Homo sapiens: one gene and its partners. The main gene of each other region encodes a partner of the protein of the gene in region 3 in a complex. Each region holds a gene or a part of one and is shown on either strand. Other genes may lie near its edges.

Region 1 (7,402 bases), on a different chromosome or scaffold from region 3:
TTCTGCCTGCCTGTCTCCTCCCAAGGCAGGGCCGAGAGCCCGTCCACGGCTGCTCCACACACACCGAGGGCCGCCCTGTGCGGTGGTGCGGGGGAGGGTCTGCAAACTACGACCCCCAGGTGAACCTGCCCGCCGCTCCTCTCTGTAAGTCAGAGTCTCGCTGGCCCACCACCACACTCGCCCGCTCAGGCGCTGACCAGGGTGGCTCTCCTGCTCTGCTGGCATAGCTCAGTGGTTGTGACAGAGACCATCTGGGCTGCAAAGCTAAAGATATTTGCCGTCTGGCCTTCTACAGAGAAGGTCTGCCCGCCTGCATACAAGCTTCCGTCCACCTCCACAGGCTTCAGCTTCCACCTCCACGGCTCCCTCTCTCTTTGCTCAAGTCCCTCCCCTGCAAAATGAAACTCACCTATAAGATGGGGTCAGATGCAGATGTTCAGGTCCTTGGCACCAGCCTGACCAGTGAGCCCGCCCTCCTCACGGGGAGAGATGTGAGCACTGAGGTAGGTAGGTCTCTAACATGGAGCCAAGGTGCCCCTCCTCTGGAGTGTGGGCTAGGGCCTGTGACTCTGACGGGACAAGATGTCACTCCTGCGCTTAGGTTATGTGGCAAAGACAAGGAACTTTGCAGCTGTAATTAGAGCCCCTGAATCAGCTGACTGAGCCAATCAAGAGAGAAACACCCTGGGTGGGCCTGACTGCATCAGGTGAGCCCTTCAGGGACCAAACCCTTTCTGCTTTTTGTGTGTGTGTGTGTGTGTGTGTGTGTGTGTGTGTGTGTGTGTGTTTGAGATGGAGTCTTGCTCTGTCGCCCAGGCTGGAATGCAGTGGCGCGATCTCAGCTCACTGCAACCTCTGCCTCCAGGGCGATTCTCCTGCCTCAGCCTCCCAAGTAGCTGGGACTACAGGCATGCGCCACCATGCCCAAATAATTTTTGTATTTTTAGTAGAGATGGGGCCTTGCCATGTAGGCCAGGCTGGTCTCAAACTCCTGAACTCAAGTGATCTGCCCGCCTCAGCCTCCCAAAGTGCTGGGATTACAGGCGTGAGCCACAGCGCCCAGTTAATTGTTGTACTTTTAGTAGAGATGGGGTTTCGCCATGTTGGCCAGGCTGGTCTCGAACTCCTGACCTCAGGTGATCCACCTGCCTTAGCCTCCCAGACTGCTGGGATTAAGGCGTGAGCCCCCGCACCCGGCCCCAAACCCTTTCTGAAAGATGATTCTCCCACTGGCCCGAATAACTGAATATGGACAAATGTCAGCTCAGCCTGCAGCACTGTAGGGGCAGACCACCACGGTGGAACAGAGTCCCGAGCTGGCAGCGTCCGGGAGCTGCAAGTGTCCCTAGCCAACACTGGCCAGAACGGGGACCCTGGCCCTGCAAAGGTAAGGCACTGAGCTCTGTCAATAACCAGTGGGCTCAGAAGAAGACCCCAAGATGATGGACCCCAAAAAACAACCCTCAGTTACAACCTCCTGAGAGCCCTTGAGGCTGTGGTACCCTGGCTCCTGACTCACAGATCCTGTGAGATAATAAAATGGTGCTGTTTCAGCTGCTAAATGGGTGATTTGCTATGAAGGGCAGAAAACAAAGGGAAGCAGTGTGACCAGCAAGAGCGGCCGCTCACTCATGTCCTTCCATGTCCGGAGTCAGCATGGTGTAGACTGAGAAAACATTTTATTCATATTCCTTTTTCTTTTTGTTTTGAGACGGAGTCTTGCCCTATCGCCAGGCTGGAGTGCGGTGGCACAATCTCGCCTCTGGGGTTCAAGCAATTCTCCTGCCTCAGCCCCCCGAGTAGCTGGGACTACAAGCGTGCGCCACCATGCCCAGCTAACTTTTTGTATTTTAGTAGAGACAGGGTTTCACCACGTAGGCCAGGATGGTCTTGATCTCCTGACCTCCTGATCTGCCTGCCTCGGCCTCCCAAAGTGTCAAGATTAAAGGCATGAGCCACTGTGCCTGGCCTCCTTTTTCTCTTTTGAGACTGGGCCTTGCTCTGTGGCCCAGGCTGGAGTGCAGTGGTGCGGTCATAGCTCACTGCAGCCTCAAACCCTAGGGTGAAGCCACCCTCCTGCTTCAGACTCCCAAATTGCTGGGATTACACACGTGAGCCGCCCCGTCCGGCTGGGGCACTGTGATTTTTAATAACTCTCATGCCACCCAGTTGTCTACAATCCAGGGACAAAGAGGTTTGGGTCCCCGTCTTACAAAAAAAAGAAACCAAAGATCCAAGAGGCTATTGAATAAGTGACGTGTTGTCTGACTGCTTACTTCCTGCTGAGAGCTGCCTCAATTACATTACATGCCTGTAACCATTCATTCTCACCACCCCCTGTGAAGTGGGTGGAGTTACCAGCCCCATTTGACAAATGAGGAAACGGAGGCTAGGAGAAGGCAGCTCACTTGCCCAGTCAAAAATGCTAGGCTGGGCATGGTGGCTCATGCCTGAAATCCCAGCAATTTAGGGGGCTGAGGCAGGCAGATCGCTTGAGGCCAGGAGTTTGAGACCATCCTGGCCAACATGGCCTCTCTACTAAAAATACAAATATTAGCCGGGCGTGGTGGTACACATTAATTCCAGCTACTCGGGAGGCTGAGGCACAAGAATCACTTGAACCTGGGAGGCGGAGGTTGCAGTGAGCTGAGATCGCACCACTGCACTCCAGCCCGGGTGACAGAGCGAGACTGCGTCTCAAAAAAAATAATGAAAATAAATAAAAGAGGTGCTTCCGCATGCGTCCTCATCATCTCTGTTGCTGGGTTTATTTGAAATTTTTAAAGAGGGGGTACCGACAGCGGGAGCCTCCTCACCTTCGCGGCCTCCCTGGAACTTTACCCGGATCGTCTTGTCGATGTACTTGGACAAGTCCAAGATGCTCTCCTTTTTCTTCTTCTCCTTATCCTGCGGGGAAAGCAGAGCGCATGAGACCTGGAGCGCGGCCCGAGCTCCACGCCCCCCGGCTCCAGATTCCGCCGCGCGCTCACCGCCATCTTGTCGCGCCGTGTGGCTCTTCGCAGGCACCGCCCCGCGCCCTTTGACCTCCCCCACGCGCATGCGCGGCGCATGCGTGGCCCGGGGTCTCGGGGCGTTGCTGGGAAACATCTGCCGTTGGTTGCGGCGGGCACCGGCCGACATGGCGGCAGCGGTGGCGGCTGCGCTGGCGCGGCTTTTGGCGGCCTTTCTGCTCCTCGCGGCCCAGGTGAGCGCGGCACCGGTCCCGACGGCACCGCGGGCTGCGGCCCTTCGGCCTCTCTGTCCCCGGGCTACGCGCAGGAACGACCCCGCTCGGCCCGTCTTGGGGGTCCAGCCTCGGGGATCCGCCGTCCCCGCGTTGTCGGCCGGCGGTGCCGGGGCTCGGCCGTGACCTTGCGGGTCTGTCCCCGGCTCCTCTCCTTTCCCCGCCTCGGAGGCCCTCCGCCGCTGCAGCGCCACTCACTTCCCACCGGGTCTGAAATTTGTGCCCCCTCCATCCTCCGGTTCTGCTTCTCCGTTTCGGGGTCTCCAGTTGCCGCCGGGGACGCCTCTCTCCGGCTCTGTGGCCTTGAGCAGGCGGCTGCCCACCCCTCTCCGAGCCTCAGTTTCCCCTTAGGCGGAACGGGCACGGTGCTAAGCTAACCTCACCCTAGGGGGTGCGGTGGGGGAACCCAGAGGCGTCCCGCGCGTCCCCCAGTAACTGGCAGCATCCTGGAGCGGCCAGGAGTCCAGCCCTGCACTGGGGTCGGATCCCCGCTCCATCTTTTACTCCGTGACCTTGGACGATGGAATTCGTGTGCAGAAGGAGGACCGACTATGGTGTGGATTCTGGAGGTTCTGTCCAGGGTGACCAGCGCCCAGGGCCAACAGGCCTTCATTATGTTCATTGTGTGTCATTTGATGTAAAGAGTGTCAGGTTCTAGTGGGGACAGTCTACGAGATCGCACTGTCATAACTGCATCTTTTATTTTCTTAATTCCAAATCTTCCCTCTCTCCTGAGTTCGGTGGCTCAGGCAATGGAACCTGGAGCAGCCCCACAAATGCAGCCCTTAACCTTCACTACCCCCTCAGAGTTCTCACTCTTAAGGCGTCGCCGCCACCTGGCTCCTCAGTCTCCACTCCTCCAGCCCCACCGCTATCCCTCTGCTGTGGCTGCCTTTGTCCACCACATCCCCAGTCCATCCTCGACACAGCAGGGGTGACCCTTTCAAAGTATGTCAGACCGTGTCGCATCCAGATGAGTGCGCCGTCCAGTTGTGACCTGGCTGCTGGGGAAGCCTGCAGCTCATTGCAGTCGCTTCACTCTCTAGTCTTTTCTCTTACCCTGAGATGCCCCTGGTCTCTGCAAGGCTGTCGGGCCCCCTCGGAAGCTTTCTGAGAACCCCAGTCCTACCCCCAGCTGCTCTGTCAGCCCCCTTTGGACTCCCCCCATTCTGCAGCCAGGCACCTAGAGCTCCCCAGACATTTGGAAGGAGGGGGAAAGCCAGAGGTGGAAGAAAGATCACAGAACTCTGTGGAGAGAGGGACTCAGTTTGCCTGGGAAGGCTTTTCCGAAGCAGATCTATTTTTTTTTTTTGAGACGGAGTCTCGCTCTGTCGCCCAGGCTGGAGTGCAGTGGCATGATCTAGGCTCACTGCAACCTCTGCCTCCCGGTTCAAGCAATTCTCCCACCTCAGCCTCCCGAATAGCTGGGATTACAGGTGCATGCCACCACTCCTGGCTAAATTTTTTTTTTTTTTTTTTTAGTAGAGACGAGGTTTCACCATGTTGGTCAGGCTGGTCTCGAACTTCAGACCTCAGGTGATCCACCTGCTTCGGCCACCCAAAGTGCTGGGATGACAGGCGTGAGCCACCGTGCCCGGCCCCGAGGCAGGTGTTCTGAATGATGAGTAGGAGTTTGCCGGGTCGGCAGGAGGGGAAGGGTGTTGGAAGCACCAGAAGCAGCATAAGCGGGGGCTGGGAGGTGTGAGAGCTGGCAGGTTATTTGGGGTTGGCAAGGGGTGGGCTGTGGCTGGAGTGTAGGGTGGAATAATGCTGGAAGGAAGGGTTTACACCCTGAAAGATGTCACCACCAAGGAGGCCCGGGGGGTGGGCCGTGGAGGGTTGCTGGAGCAGGGGCACAGAGGAGGGGGCAGTGGTGCGAGTGGCCCCAGGCAGAGAGTGAAGGCAGAGCATTCAGCCTCCTAGTCTGGATGACAGGTTGTCTGGTGGAAGCCAGGCCGTGGAAGGCGCTTGGTGCTGGGGTGCGTGGACTTTAACCTGGGCGGGCTGAGGAGTGTGAGCTTTATCCGGAGGGTGGGGAGTCAAAGGATGTGTCAGAGGGACGTGAGAGAGCAGGTGTTCCTGCCCCTTCCAGAACCCTGGTTGTAAATACACCCTGAGACGCCTGTCCCTGGAGGGGGGCAGTGCTTCGCGGCAGTGGAAATTTGAGTCCGATTGCCCAAGAATGAGACTTGCTCTCAGGGCAGGAGCCTGGTTGGTGACAGTCCTCAACTCGCTTGCTTGCTACCATTCTGTGACCCTGAGCAAGGAAGTCGACCTCCCCAGTGAGACACCTCCCTTCCCCCACCCCACGGAGCCCGCTCCTCAGCAGATCTGAGCTGGAGCTGGTGGCCCTGGCTGGACCCGGCCCGGCTCCTGGAACTCCTCAGTCTTCCCAGAAGGGAGGCTCTCCCCGCCTGGACTCACTGGCCTGTTTCAAAGGCCCTTGATGTGGATGCTTTCACAGTCACTTGGAAGCGGGGTTTCTAAGCCTAGTAGTTTCTGAACCTGTGTGCGGTTGCAAAGCGTTTGTGCTGCAATTGTGAAGGATTTGGAGGTCGAGGCTTGGGCTTTGAGCCTGTCCTTGTAGCCTGAGCTTTTTCTGCTCCTCCAAATTTCGGTGGGCCTGTCTAGAACTCAGGGCCCTCTTAGAGCTGTGGCCTTTGGAAGAATTGTTCCCCGTTCCTTTAACTCAGCAGGTGAGGAAACTCTTCCCGGTGAGATGCCGCGTTCTCTGGCCTTTGATAGAGGCACAGGCTTGTTTTTTTAATGGAAAACCAGTTTTGCGAATTGTGGAGAGGAAAATGCATGAATGTGCTTTTGTGCTTTTAAATGACCCTTTTAGAGAGAAGCAGAGAAGCAGTTCTATCAGTTCCCATTTTACACAAAAGACACTTTTCACCAGAGTCCCTGATCCCATAGAACAGAGCTTGGCAAGTGTTTTCTGGGAAGGGCTAGACAGTAGTTTTGCTGGGCTCTGTGGCCCACGTGGCCTCTGGTTTGGTTGCTTGGTTTCTCCTGTTGTTCTTCCAGAGCCGGAGACCCTTCCTTAGGAATGGGCTTGGCTGTGTTCCAATAAAACTTTATTTACAAACACAGAAGGTGGGCCGGACTGTGGATTCTTGGCCTCTGCCGTGACCCATAACATCCCTCCTGGAGGAGGGGTTCTGGGGGGCTGTGTTGGAAGGGGCACCCTCCGGGCTCGGCACCGGGGCCAGACTAAGGGGTGCTCTCACGGGCAGGCAGTCTGGTGGGCAGAACTGGAAAGAAAGGGCTCCTGACTCTGCCTGGGCTCTGGGGGAGGTCACATGGGAGGTGCTTGGAGTGGGGCTGGGGCAGCTGTGGGAAGGAAGCAGCATTAGCCAAGAGCTATGAGACCCCCAGTCGATTGTGGGGACCGGGGCTCCGTGGGCTTTCACCATGCTGCCACCCCGAGGTCACCAGGGCCTTGACCCAGATGCTCCCAGACCAGGCCGGAGACTTTGCATGATTTCAGTGATGAGGGCCCGGCTGTTGGAGAGCCCGTCTGTGCCTGTGTGCTGGGGTTGGTGTCTGGCACCAGGGACCTTTGGGACCTTTAGCCAAGCCAGAGCTGTCCTTCCCCAGTCCTAGCTTGGCAGAGCTGCGTCTGCACTGTTTTCCCTTGTGGCGTTGTGGTGTCGGCCCGTTTGGTGCGCAGCTCAGCATCCGTTCAGACATGTGGCTGCCATCCTGTTCCTGATGAGGCAAATGGCTGTGGCCTGTTTGTTTCCGTGACAGGTCCCCTGGGGACCAGGGGGTGCGGCTGTCTCTCTGTCTGGGAGGTTTACAGCCTGGCAGGAGCCCTGCAGCCCCAGAAGGCTGAGGGCTGGGTGCTCCTGAGAACGGGCAGGCCTAGGGCATGGGGTGGGTCTCCTTGGTCCCTGGCACGTGGTTTTTCTTCTGGGACCCCTCCTCCCTGTGCAGGCCGGGCTCCCCTGGGGGCCCACACTGAGGGTCTGCAGTGTGGCACAGCAGCTGGGACCTGGGCCCCATCGCTGTGAGACCCTCTGGTGACTGGCATCCTGGCGAGATGGAGATGTCTTTGTCAGCTGCTGGGTGGGGGCCCTGGGCAGGGGAGCAGAAGGAAGGTGGGGATGGCAGGTGCGGGCGGCTGGACTGGGCTCTGCTGGGAGGGGGAGC
Region 2 (6,352 bases), on a different chromosome or scaffold from region 3:
GAATAGATATTTTAATTAGAAGTGAACTCTTTTTTTTTTTTCTTTTTTCTTTTTTGAGACCGAGTCTCACTCTTTCGCCCAGGCTGGAGTGCAGTGGCTCAGTCTTGGCTCACTGCAACCTCCGCCTCCCAAGTTCAGACGATTCTCCTGCCTCAGCCTCCCAAGTAGCTGGGATTACAGGCACCTGCCACCATGCCTGGCTAATTTTTGTATTTTTAGTAGAGACGGGGTTTCGCCATGTTAGCCAGGCTGATCTTGAACTCCTGACCTCAAGTGATCTGCCAGCTTCTACCTCCCAAAGTACTGGGATTACAGGCATGAGCCACTTTGCCCAGCCTGGACATTTCATTTTGAAATTCTTTTCATTGGTTTTCAAACAGGTTTGCATATTGTGCCTCAGATTTTTCTTGCTCATTTATAATTGCAGTTTGTATGTAAAATAGTACAGCAGGAAACGAGCTAAAGTTGTAGCTTAAGCTTTCTTTTGCTAGGAAATAATTTTATTATTCACAGTCCATTCTCGTTCTTTGAGAGTTTACCGCTTTTAGCAGAATTCTGGTAGATTAATGTCTTTTGCTGTCATTACACAATTTTGAAAGGAAACTTTTTTGTTTAGAGGATAATGGGGGCAGAGGCAGAGAGTGAGGAGCATATTAATGAAGTTAAGACATCAAATGAGAAACTATAGACTCGACTGAATTGAATCTAGTATTTGTTTTTACTTAAATTTTTTTTTCTAGGAAATACCACTTTAAATTAGAGACAGAATTAGAGGCTTACAGATTTTCATCTTTTGAAAAAGATCATCAGGTCAAATTTTACAAAATTTATACCATCTTAACACAATTAAAGATTGACTCAAACTGTTTCCTTGAAAGCTCCCTCGAATGTTTTTGGCCATTTTCTCTATTAGTTTTGATTGGAAAATATTATAGCTGTAACAAAACAGAACAAGATGTGTTATAATGCAATATGTTGCCCTATATTCTCAAGCTGCTCTTCACTGTGAGTCACAGCTTTAAGATGTTCTTTCGGGAGCACCTGCTGTCTCCTCTTCTATTATTTTAACAGATTGTGGAGACTTCCTTTTAACCCTGGAGTACATTCATCTGCTGCAATAGATGTTGTAAAAGAATGAAATAAATCTGCCAGACCCGTATTTCACTTAGTGGCTAAAGTAGGAAATGCCACTGGAACCAAGGATCATTTGTTTATGCATAATTGCCCACCTTGTGCTTAGCTTTCAAAGAATGGTATTTTTGCCGGAATAGTCTTATTCTCTTACTTTTTTGAATGCTTTAAAAGTTTCTGTGTGGTCATACGTACCATGAGGGAAGTGACAGTTTGTTGTTTTACCGGGTAGTAGTGGGTGCGTGACTGCCTTCCTAGACTTCATTCAGATTGGCATAGAGTTGTTTTGTGCTTAAGCTGTTGAGTTTCATTTATGGTGTGAATTTTTATATTAAGCATCTAAGAACTAATGAATAAAGAGATTGTCTGCTCTAAGGTATACCCTGTAATTTTCAACTCTTATTTGCCTTGTGTATCTTCTTTTTGACTAAATATGTCTGCAGGGGTCCTGGCTTGCCTGGATGGCTACATGAATATAGCCCTGGAGCAGACAGAAGAATATGTAAATGGACAACTGAAGAATAAGTATGGGGATGCATTTATCCGAGGAAACAATGGTAACATTTCTTCGCCCTACAGTACAGCATTCAAAATAAGCCTTTCTATTTATAATCCAGATCACCAAAGAGGTTTCTAGATAATTTAAAAGTCCACTTTTAGGCTTGATTATTTTAAAATGCTTATATGTCAGATCTTCAGTTTGACCAGTTATTTTGTAGATGCTTCATGGAATTTTGAAACCAAAATTCTCTCCTTCCCTTCCTTTAGTGATGAGGAACTGAGGGACATTGTTCTCCTTACCTGGAACCCTGCTTTCTCGAATATAGTGTAGTATATCTCCCCAACACATATTCCTGCTTCTTGTAGCCTGGAAGTTGGAGATGTAAGAATGGGCACCGTTTCCCTGCTGTCTTTGATTTGCATAATTTGGCAGTTCGTCCTATTTGTCCCTTCTCTATTAAACATTCAGATGCTTTCTATGCAGATTTGCATCCTTCAGTTTGGCAAAAATGGCAAAATAGAAAAAGTTACTCAGTTTTTAACAACTAATAAATTGCTATGATTTTTATAGTTATTTTTAAGTACCTAGTTTAAAAATGAAAATTATAATAAAGTCATATTTGTATTTTTGGTGGGGAGGGAAAGATATCAGAATTATGAGAATTACCCCACTTTTTGGTTCCATCTCCCAGAAACTCTGGGATTCTTGAGTTCAGATTTTTTGTTGATTTCTTTAATTCTGGATGTCTTCAACCCCCTAAATAGTTGGATCTCTTTGCTATAAACTAAACTTCCTGACTTTTATAATAAGAGTCTGTCCCCTATGCTTACAGGACCTTATTTCTTCATATCATATTTTTACATACATTATTTCCTGGCTTTCTAGTCCTTTCTATTTATAGAATTATTTATCCTATTTTTCATATCCTTATTTGACCTCCTCTTTTTCCTAAGAAATGTTATGATCTTGTCTCACCTCAAGACAGCTAATGGCAGCAGTCACTGGCAGGTTGGGTTCTGTGCGTGTTGATAGGGTAGATCCTTTAACGTGCACACTACCCCTAGGACTTGGGGGGCAGGGTTGGGGGGCGGCTGTACTGGCATTCTGATGCTTCCCTTCATGTCACATTTCCCATGATGTAATCAGTGACACTCATCTTTAGACTCCCAAGTTCACATCATTGGCTCTTAAAGAGGATCTTGACTTATTTGATTCATCTGTGCTATGTTCTTTGATGAAGACACCTTACTGTTCGCTTTGAGCAGACCTCTCAGAAGCCGAGTAGGCATGGAAGGTGGAAGGGAGAACCACCTCTAGTTTGGCCAAAGTGACCCAAGCATTTCATTTTGTTTCATTCCTACGGACCACACATCCTACGAGTTCATGTTGGTAGTCATGAGAAGACCACTAAGCAGAACATTAGGTAACACCAAAGTATGAGACTTTTAACGGGAACTCAGAATAAGGACTTTGGTATCATTAAAAAATAAAAATAAAAAATAAACTCCTTAGCTCTTGTTTATCCTGTTGCATTTAAGAAGGTAAACAGCAAGTTTAGAGTTTGTATTGGGGAGACAGATGAAAATATGTTGTTTATTCTTAATTTGAGATCTAGCCTGGTTAGATTTACTGATTTACTTTCTGAAAAGCATCTTTTTTTTTTTTTTTTTTTCCTGAGATGAAGTCTCGCTCTGTGGCCCAGGCTGGAGTGTAGTTGTGCAATCTCAGCTCACTGCAGCCTCTGCCTCCCAAGCTCAAGCAGTCCTCCCACCTCAGCGTTCTAAGTCGCTGGGACTACAAGTGCATATACCACCATGCCTGGTTAATTTTTTGTATTTTTGGTAGAAACGGGGTTTCACCATGTTGCCCAGGCTGGTCTCAAACTTCTGAGCTCAAGTGATCCACCCGCTTCAGCCTCCCAAAGTGCTAAGATTGCAGGCGTGAGCCACCGTGTTCAGCCCTGAAAAGCATAATTCTTATACTTCTAACTATAAAGCATTCTTAGATACCAGGGACTTTCACATATATTTTATTTTATCTTCCTGGTCACACTTTAAAGAGTCAGTGAGACACATGGATGAAATTAGGACAGTTTTGTAAGACATCAAACCTGGGTGTAGATTCATAAAACTAGTCTTACAGTACTTCTAGAGTTAATTGAATGATACGAGAATTCCTTTTAAATGTCAGATGTATCAGACCAAAATCTGTTGGCTTTTAAACTTGCTACTATGTATACTTACAAGCAGGGTTTTTTAAATTTCAATTTATGTATTTTTTTCTTTTCAGTGTTGTACATCAGTACACAGAAGAGACGGATGTGAAGACACCAAGAGAGCAACGCTTTTCATAGTTGGATATATTTTTTTATGAATTTTTTCTAATTTTTGCTTCTTTTGTGATACAATTTGTCCTCTTTTTATAATAGTTGGTGATTTTTCACTGACATGTGAGTAAGATAAATGTATACAATTGTGGATTTAATTGTGAAATGTTCTTTCACTTGTAAGTTTCAGTCATTTTCTTTTACCTCGTTGTCAGTGTACAGAATGCTAAAATAATTAAAAAAAGACAAAATATACCTCTTCCTACAAGATTATTTAACTTAAGTTTCGAGAAGTGTCATTTCATTTGACTTGCTTTTCTTATCCAGCTAAAATGATGCATATATTTTATATATTGTATGGACATATAATTAAAACATTTTGGAGGAATCCTCCTTTATTGCATCCTTTTCTGTTCATACAGAATCCTTGCGTGAATATGTTCTACAAAGGCATCCAGTTTCAGTCTGAAGCTACAAAAAGGGGCCACAGGATCAGAAGTTCAGCCACTGATTGAGTCACCTAAATAAAAAACAGAATTGGAAAGCCAAGAGTGCCACTTGCACATAAGGAGTGGGAATTCGAACTGAGGTGCTGGAGAAATCCTAAAGATGAACAAGATTTCAGTGAGGAGAAAGCCCTCCTGTCAGTGGTCCCCCTGCATCTCCTTATGCAATTAGACTTTTTAGGTTTCCCTGCTCCCTTTCAGGAGCATTGGCATCAACGTTATTCTCTCAGTTTATGAACACAGTAGGGGAGGGGCCATTCCTGTACATCTCTCACAGTCAGATTAAAGCAAAGCCTAGAGTTTGTAAACATAATTCAGGTTCTAATTGCCGAGCTGAGATTGGGAAAGAATTTTTCCTAACTCTGGTCTAGCAAGTGGCTGTAGGGAGGCCTTTCTCAAAAATCAGCTGTATTTGCCTTTGACATTGTCCAGGAGCAGAGCACCAGGCTTTATGTTGCTTGGCACAAGGCAGCTCCTCTGGTTATGTGACTCCTGCTGAGAGGATTTTCACAATTTATTAATGAGCTTTCCACAACCCTGCTTTATTCTCCAAACAGTTTTACGCTGTCTCTAGGAACAACAAATATATCTGGGCACTGTGGTTGAATGAATACCAGACAATTGTGTGAATGTTGTATTGGACTTCCTCTTCCCTCCCTTCCCAATCTAAATAGCATTCCTATTTCAGGAGCCGATGGTGTGATTCGAAACAACTGCTTGGTTGAAGGATGGGGGGCAGGATCGAGAAGGAGAGAGGGAAGGGGCAGTGCTGATTCTGGAGAGGTGTATGTAGTGTTTTGTCTTGGTTTATTTTAAAGATCAGAGAGTAATTGGAAACAATTATTTTTTAATTAATAACTTGGGAAAGGTGAACAGAAGCATTTCACAGGGTTTTACCGTGTGCACACTGAAAATAAAACACTTTATGCTATGCTTCAATAATTTATCACTTCTTGACAGGGGCTTGGAAAAGGTCCAGTATGTAAGTACAAATCACCAATTTGCTCTTTTATAAATGAGTTCTTTTAAGGAGAAAATGGATGGCTCTCCAAGTGGAGCATACATGTTCTCATTTGTTTTGTAGAATATGTGGGGCTGCAGGTTATTGTGTCCCTTCATTCACTTATATCAGCCACCTCTAAAAGCAATTCCATTGTAGTCTCCCACTAATCTGTAGCGTCCTGTTTTTTCTAACTTCTTCCCTGACCTCGCCTTTGATATATAAGTCTTTATTTTCCCCTTGCCATCTCTCTAGTTTAATAGCTCTACAGTGGAGTACTGTTTTCAACCATGGAACTACTTTTAATCAAGATCAACTTTGGGAAGTGCTGCCATTTTTATGGTAATAAAGGACTGTATTATGCACTTGAACCCGCTCAAGTTGTCCCCTGTGTATACCTTCACATAGTAGAACCATGAAACAAAGTGTAAATGCTTAAATTGCTTTGTTCTTAACTGTAGTCTCCTAGAGGTCAGTGAATGATTTCTAGTTGCATTGTAGCGAAGACATTTGTTCCAGGTTGAAGAATTTTTTACTTGAGAACATACATTTTCCCTGTCTGTGTGCCCCCAAACCCTGTCTGCCACACTCTTTCTCTTGGGCTGTGACAAAACAGAATGTTTAGCGAGAAACAAAATTGTGCTCGATTTTCAGACTATCTGACTTCATTTTCTGTTTTGGTCTTTGAGCTATTCCTTGGCTAATCTTCCAACAAGTCGAATTGATTCTTATTTCAAAACTGTTTATCCCAAAACAGAGCTGTTGACAAGTACAAATACAGATGGCAGACATGTGGTATGATTTTCATGTTCTCATCTCAGCATTCAGGAAGGGAATGTTATTGAAAGATGGTTTACATCTGAAGCTTTCTGCTCAAGGCAATATGG
Region 3 (3,773 bases):
ACACAGACTCGCACTGTCAACAAGCATGGCGATGAGATCATCACCTCCACCACCAGCAACTATGAGACCCAGACTTTCTCATCCAAGACTGAGTGGAGGGTCAGGTACTGTCGGGCAAGAGGGTGGGGATGGAAAGGCCGGCTGCACTACCTAAGGTGCTGGGCTGAGCGATGCTGACACTCCCTGCCTGTTTTTAGGGCCATCTCTGCTGCCAACCTGCACCTAAGGACCAATCACATCTATGTTTCATCTGACGACATCAAGGAGACTGGCTACACCTACATCCTTCCCAAGAATGTGCTTAAGAAGTTCATCTGCATATCTGACCTTCGGGCCCAAGTGAGTAAGTGGACTCAGCTAGGCCACAGTGTGTGCCCAACTCATTTTGTGCCTAAAACTCAGACCTGAGATTGTCTGGAACTTGAGATGCTGGTTTCAAGATTCATGGATGAGTAATTATACAAGGATAGCCAAAACAACGAGGTGGGTTTTGGCCCCATGAGATAGCAAAAGCTGTGGCAGCTGAGAGAAGGTAGTAATTGTAGTATTGGCCTGATAGTATTTGGAAGAGAACAGATATGGTCAGAAACAAATTCCTGACCAGGTGTGCGTGCTGGCTCATGCCTGTAATCCCAACACTCGGCTGGGCACAGTGGCTAATGCCTATAATCCCAGCACTTTGGGAGGCCTAGGTGGGTGGATCACCTGAGGTCAGGGGTTTGAGACCAGCCTGACCAATATGGTGAAACCCTGTCTCTACTAAAAATACAAAAAATTAGCCAGGCATGGTGGCATGCGCCCGTAGTTGCAGCTACTAGGGAGGTTGAGACAGGAGAATTGCTTGAACCCGGGAGGTGAGGTGGAGCTTGCAGTGAGCCAAGATTGCATCACTGCACTCCAGCCTGGGCAACAGAGCAAGACCCCGTCTAAAAAAACAAAACCAAAAAAAACGTGGCTGTAGTCCCAGCTACTCAGGAGGATGAGGTTGCTTGAACGCAAGCAGTGAGCTTTGATGACCCCACTGCACTCCAGGCTGGGCACAGTGGCTCATGACTGTAATCCCAGCACTGTGGGAGGCCGAGGTGGGCAGATCTTTTGAGCCCAGGAGTTCGAGACCAGCCTGGGCAACATGACGAAATGGAGTCTCTACAAAAAAAAAAAAAAAAAACTAGCCAGGCATGGTGGCATACACCTGTAATCTCAGCTACTCAGGAGGCTGAGGTGGGAGGATCACCTGATCCTGGAGGGTGGTGAGTGTAGTGAGCTGAGATCATGTCACTGCCTGCTAGCCTGGGTGACAGAGTGATACCCTGCTTCAAAAAAGAGAAAAGATGCATAACTTTACTAGTGTATCAGGGATATTATAGTTTATAAAACATCATTTTGGGCCAAGGTGGGTGAATCACTTGAGGTCAGGAGTTCAAGACCAGCTTGGCCAACGTGGCGAAACCCCGTCTCTCTTAAATATATGAAAATTAGCGGGGCATGGTGGCATGTGCCTGTAGTCCCAGCTACTCAGGAAGCTGAGGCAGGAGAATTGCTTGAACCCAGGAGGCGGAGGTCGCAGTGAGCTGAGATCACACCACTGCACTCCAGCCTTGCTGACAGAGTGAGACTCCATCTCAAACCCACTATTTAGTGGCTGTCAGGTTGGCAAATTTGAAAAGATTGTTAATATCCTGTGTGGGTGAGTTTATAGTAAACAGATCCTCTTTCTTTCTTGGTGATAATGTAAAACTTAAAATAGCACCAAGTGCTGGTTTTCCAGATGTTTTCAGCTTGTGAAAATACACTGAGCTGCATGTGTGCTCATTTGCTTGTGAATACTATGCTTAATAATCAGCTGGGGAGCTTGTGAGCAGTGCAGATTCCTGGACCCCACTCAGGAGATTCTGATGTGGTAAGTCCGCGATGAGGTCCATGTCTAACATTTTGAACAAGCACCCCAGCTGATTCTGATACAGGGGGTTCTGATCACGTTTTAAGAAACTCTGTCCTCGTTCTTGGGGGAAGGAAGGAAACAGAGGGCTGGCAGCTCCAACTCTGACCTGGTACTAAGAAGAGTTTTGGTTCCTGACCCCTTTGTCTCCAGATTGCAGGATACCTATATGGGGTGAGCCCACCAGATAACCCCCAGGTGAAGGAGATCCGCTGCATTGTGATGGTGCCGCAGTGGGGCACTCACCAGACCGTGCACCTGCCTGGCCAGCTGCCCCAGCATGAGTACCTCAAGGTAATGGGGAGTGATGGAGCCTGGGAGTGTGGAAAAGCTGGTGCGATTCCTGTCTGTGGATGGGATTCAGCTCTGTACTCCTCTTTACCTATAGGAGATGGAACCCTTAGGTTGGATCCACACTCAGCCCAATGAGTCCCCGCAGTTATCACCCCAGGATGTCACCACCCATGCCAAGATCATGGCTGACAACCCATCTTGGGATGGCGAGAAGACCATTATCATCACATGCAGGTGGGCCTGGGCTCCTTGGGAGGAAGTATGGTGGGGCAGGGATTGCAGGCCAGGGCCCAGAACAGTGGCCTGAGCTGTTACTCTGTCCTCGTTCCTCCCCCAGCTTCACGCCAGGCTCCTGTACACTGACGGCCTACAAGCTGACCCCCAGTGGCTACGAATGGGGCCGCCAGAACACAGACAAGGGCAACAACCCCAAGGGCTACCTGCCTTCACACTATGAGAGGGTGCAGATGCTGCTGTCGGACCGTTTCCTTGGCTTCTTCATGGTCCCTGCCCAGTCCTCGTGGAACTACAACTTCATGGGTAAGTGGGAGGAGCCTGGGGATGTGGGGATAGCAGTAGGGATAAGGTGAGGCCATCGCCCTTTGCACTTGGGGCCTGGCTGGCTTGGAGGTGGCGCAGGCTGCATGAGGCAGGAGCCCTGTTAACATTGGCTGTTTCCTTCTCCCCGAAGGTGTTCGGCATGACCCCAACATGAAATATGAGCTACAGCTGGCGAACCCCAAAGAGTTCTACCACGAGGTGCACAGGCCCTCTCACTTCCTCAACTTTGCTCTCCTGCAGGAGGGGGAGGTTTACTCTGCGGATCGGGAGGACCTGTATGCCTGACCGTTTCCCTGCCTCCTGCTTCAGCCTCCCGAGGCCGAAGCCTCAGCCCCTCCAGACAGGCCGCTGACATTCAGCAGTTTGGCCTCTTTCCCTCTGTCTGTGCTTGTGTTGTTGACCTCCTGATGGCTTGTCATCCTGAATAAAATATAATAATAAATTTTGTATAAATAGGAGTTCAGGGGCTGGTTTGTTTTTTTTTTCCCCCCCAAACTCAAATTCTGGATTTAGGTCTAACAGGAGGCTGGACTGGAGCGGTTCACAGCAAGATGCTGGGCTCGGCTGTGAAGGGGGGAGTATGAGGCCCCCTTCCTATTCAGGGCTTTGGGGTAGATAGCCCCTGGACTCAGTGGAGACCTGAGGCAGGGCTGGGCTTTCACACTCCGCTGCCTTGACCACATTTGCTGCTTTTTCCACAAAACTACTTGGAAGCTCTCGCCTCCTTTCCACAGTTTTGGGAGCAGTTGCCCTTTCCCGGGTCTAGGAACTCTGTGGCTTGTGCTGAGCGGCTGCGGTGTCCAGCCCAGCCCTTTAAGCTTTCTGTGTCAGTCCTGGTCAGGAAAACAAGCACACAGGCAGGCAGTTTGTGTACAGCCGGGCGGAGGCCAGAGACCGGCTGCCTACCTGTCACCTCTCGCCTGGAGCGGGCCACTGCCAAGTTGGCCCCATGACTCCAAACGGGCGGAGCCTGGATTGG

Evidence for each region.
Region 1: PRPF8 (region 3) and LSM7 share a complex: the UniProt entries of both Homo sapiens proteins name them as parts of the U4/U6-U5 tri-snRNP complex.
Region 2: PRPF8 (region 3) and LSM6 share a complex: the UniProt entries of both Homo sapiens proteins name them as parts of the U4/U6-U5 tri-snRNP complex.

Annotation. Positions count from the first base shown.
Region 1 is NC_000019.10:2,325,571-2,332,972, forward strand, and holds the start of LSM7 (U6 snRNA-associated Sm-like protein LSm7), read right to left. Parts: upstream 3,017-7,402; 5' UTR 2,997-3,016; coding exon 2,991-2,996; intron 2,908-2,990; coding exon 2,817-2,907; intron 1-2,816. Other genes in the region: SPPL2B (signal peptide peptidase-like 2B isoform 2 precursor), read left to right, coding at 3,140-3,205. UniProt on the Homo sapiens protein: Plays a role in pre-mRNA splicing as component of the U4/U6-U5 tri-snRNP complex that is involved in spliceosome assembly, and as component of the precatalytic spliceosome (spliceosome B complex).
Region 2 is NC_000004.12:146,185,700-146,192,051, forward strand, and holds the end of LSM6 (U6 snRNA-associated Sm-like protein LSm6), read left to right. Parts: intron 1-1,574; coding exon 1,575-1,688; intron 1,689-3,922; coding exon 3,923-3,957; 3' UTR 3,958-5,836; downstream 5,837-6,352. UniProt on the Homo sapiens protein: Plays a role in pre-mRNA splicing as component of the U4/U6-U5 tri-snRNP complex that is involved in spliceosome assembly, and as component of the precatalytic spliceosome (spliceosome B complex).
Region 3 is NC_000017.11:1,650,108-1,653,880, reverse strand, and holds the end of PRPF8 (pre-mRNA-processing-splicing factor 8), read left to right. Parts: coding exon 1-104; intron 105-197; coding exon 198-339; intron 340-2,092; coding exon 2,093-2,233; intron 2,234-2,327; coding exon 2,328-2,467; intron 2,468-2,570; coding exon 2,571-2,773; intron 2,774-2,924; coding exon 2,925-3,079; 3' UTR 3,080-3,252; downstream 3,253-3,773. UniProt on the Homo sapiens protein: Plays a role in pre-mRNA splicing as core component of precatalytic, catalytic and postcatalytic spliceosomal complexes, both of the predominant U2-type spliceosome and the minor U12-type spliceosome.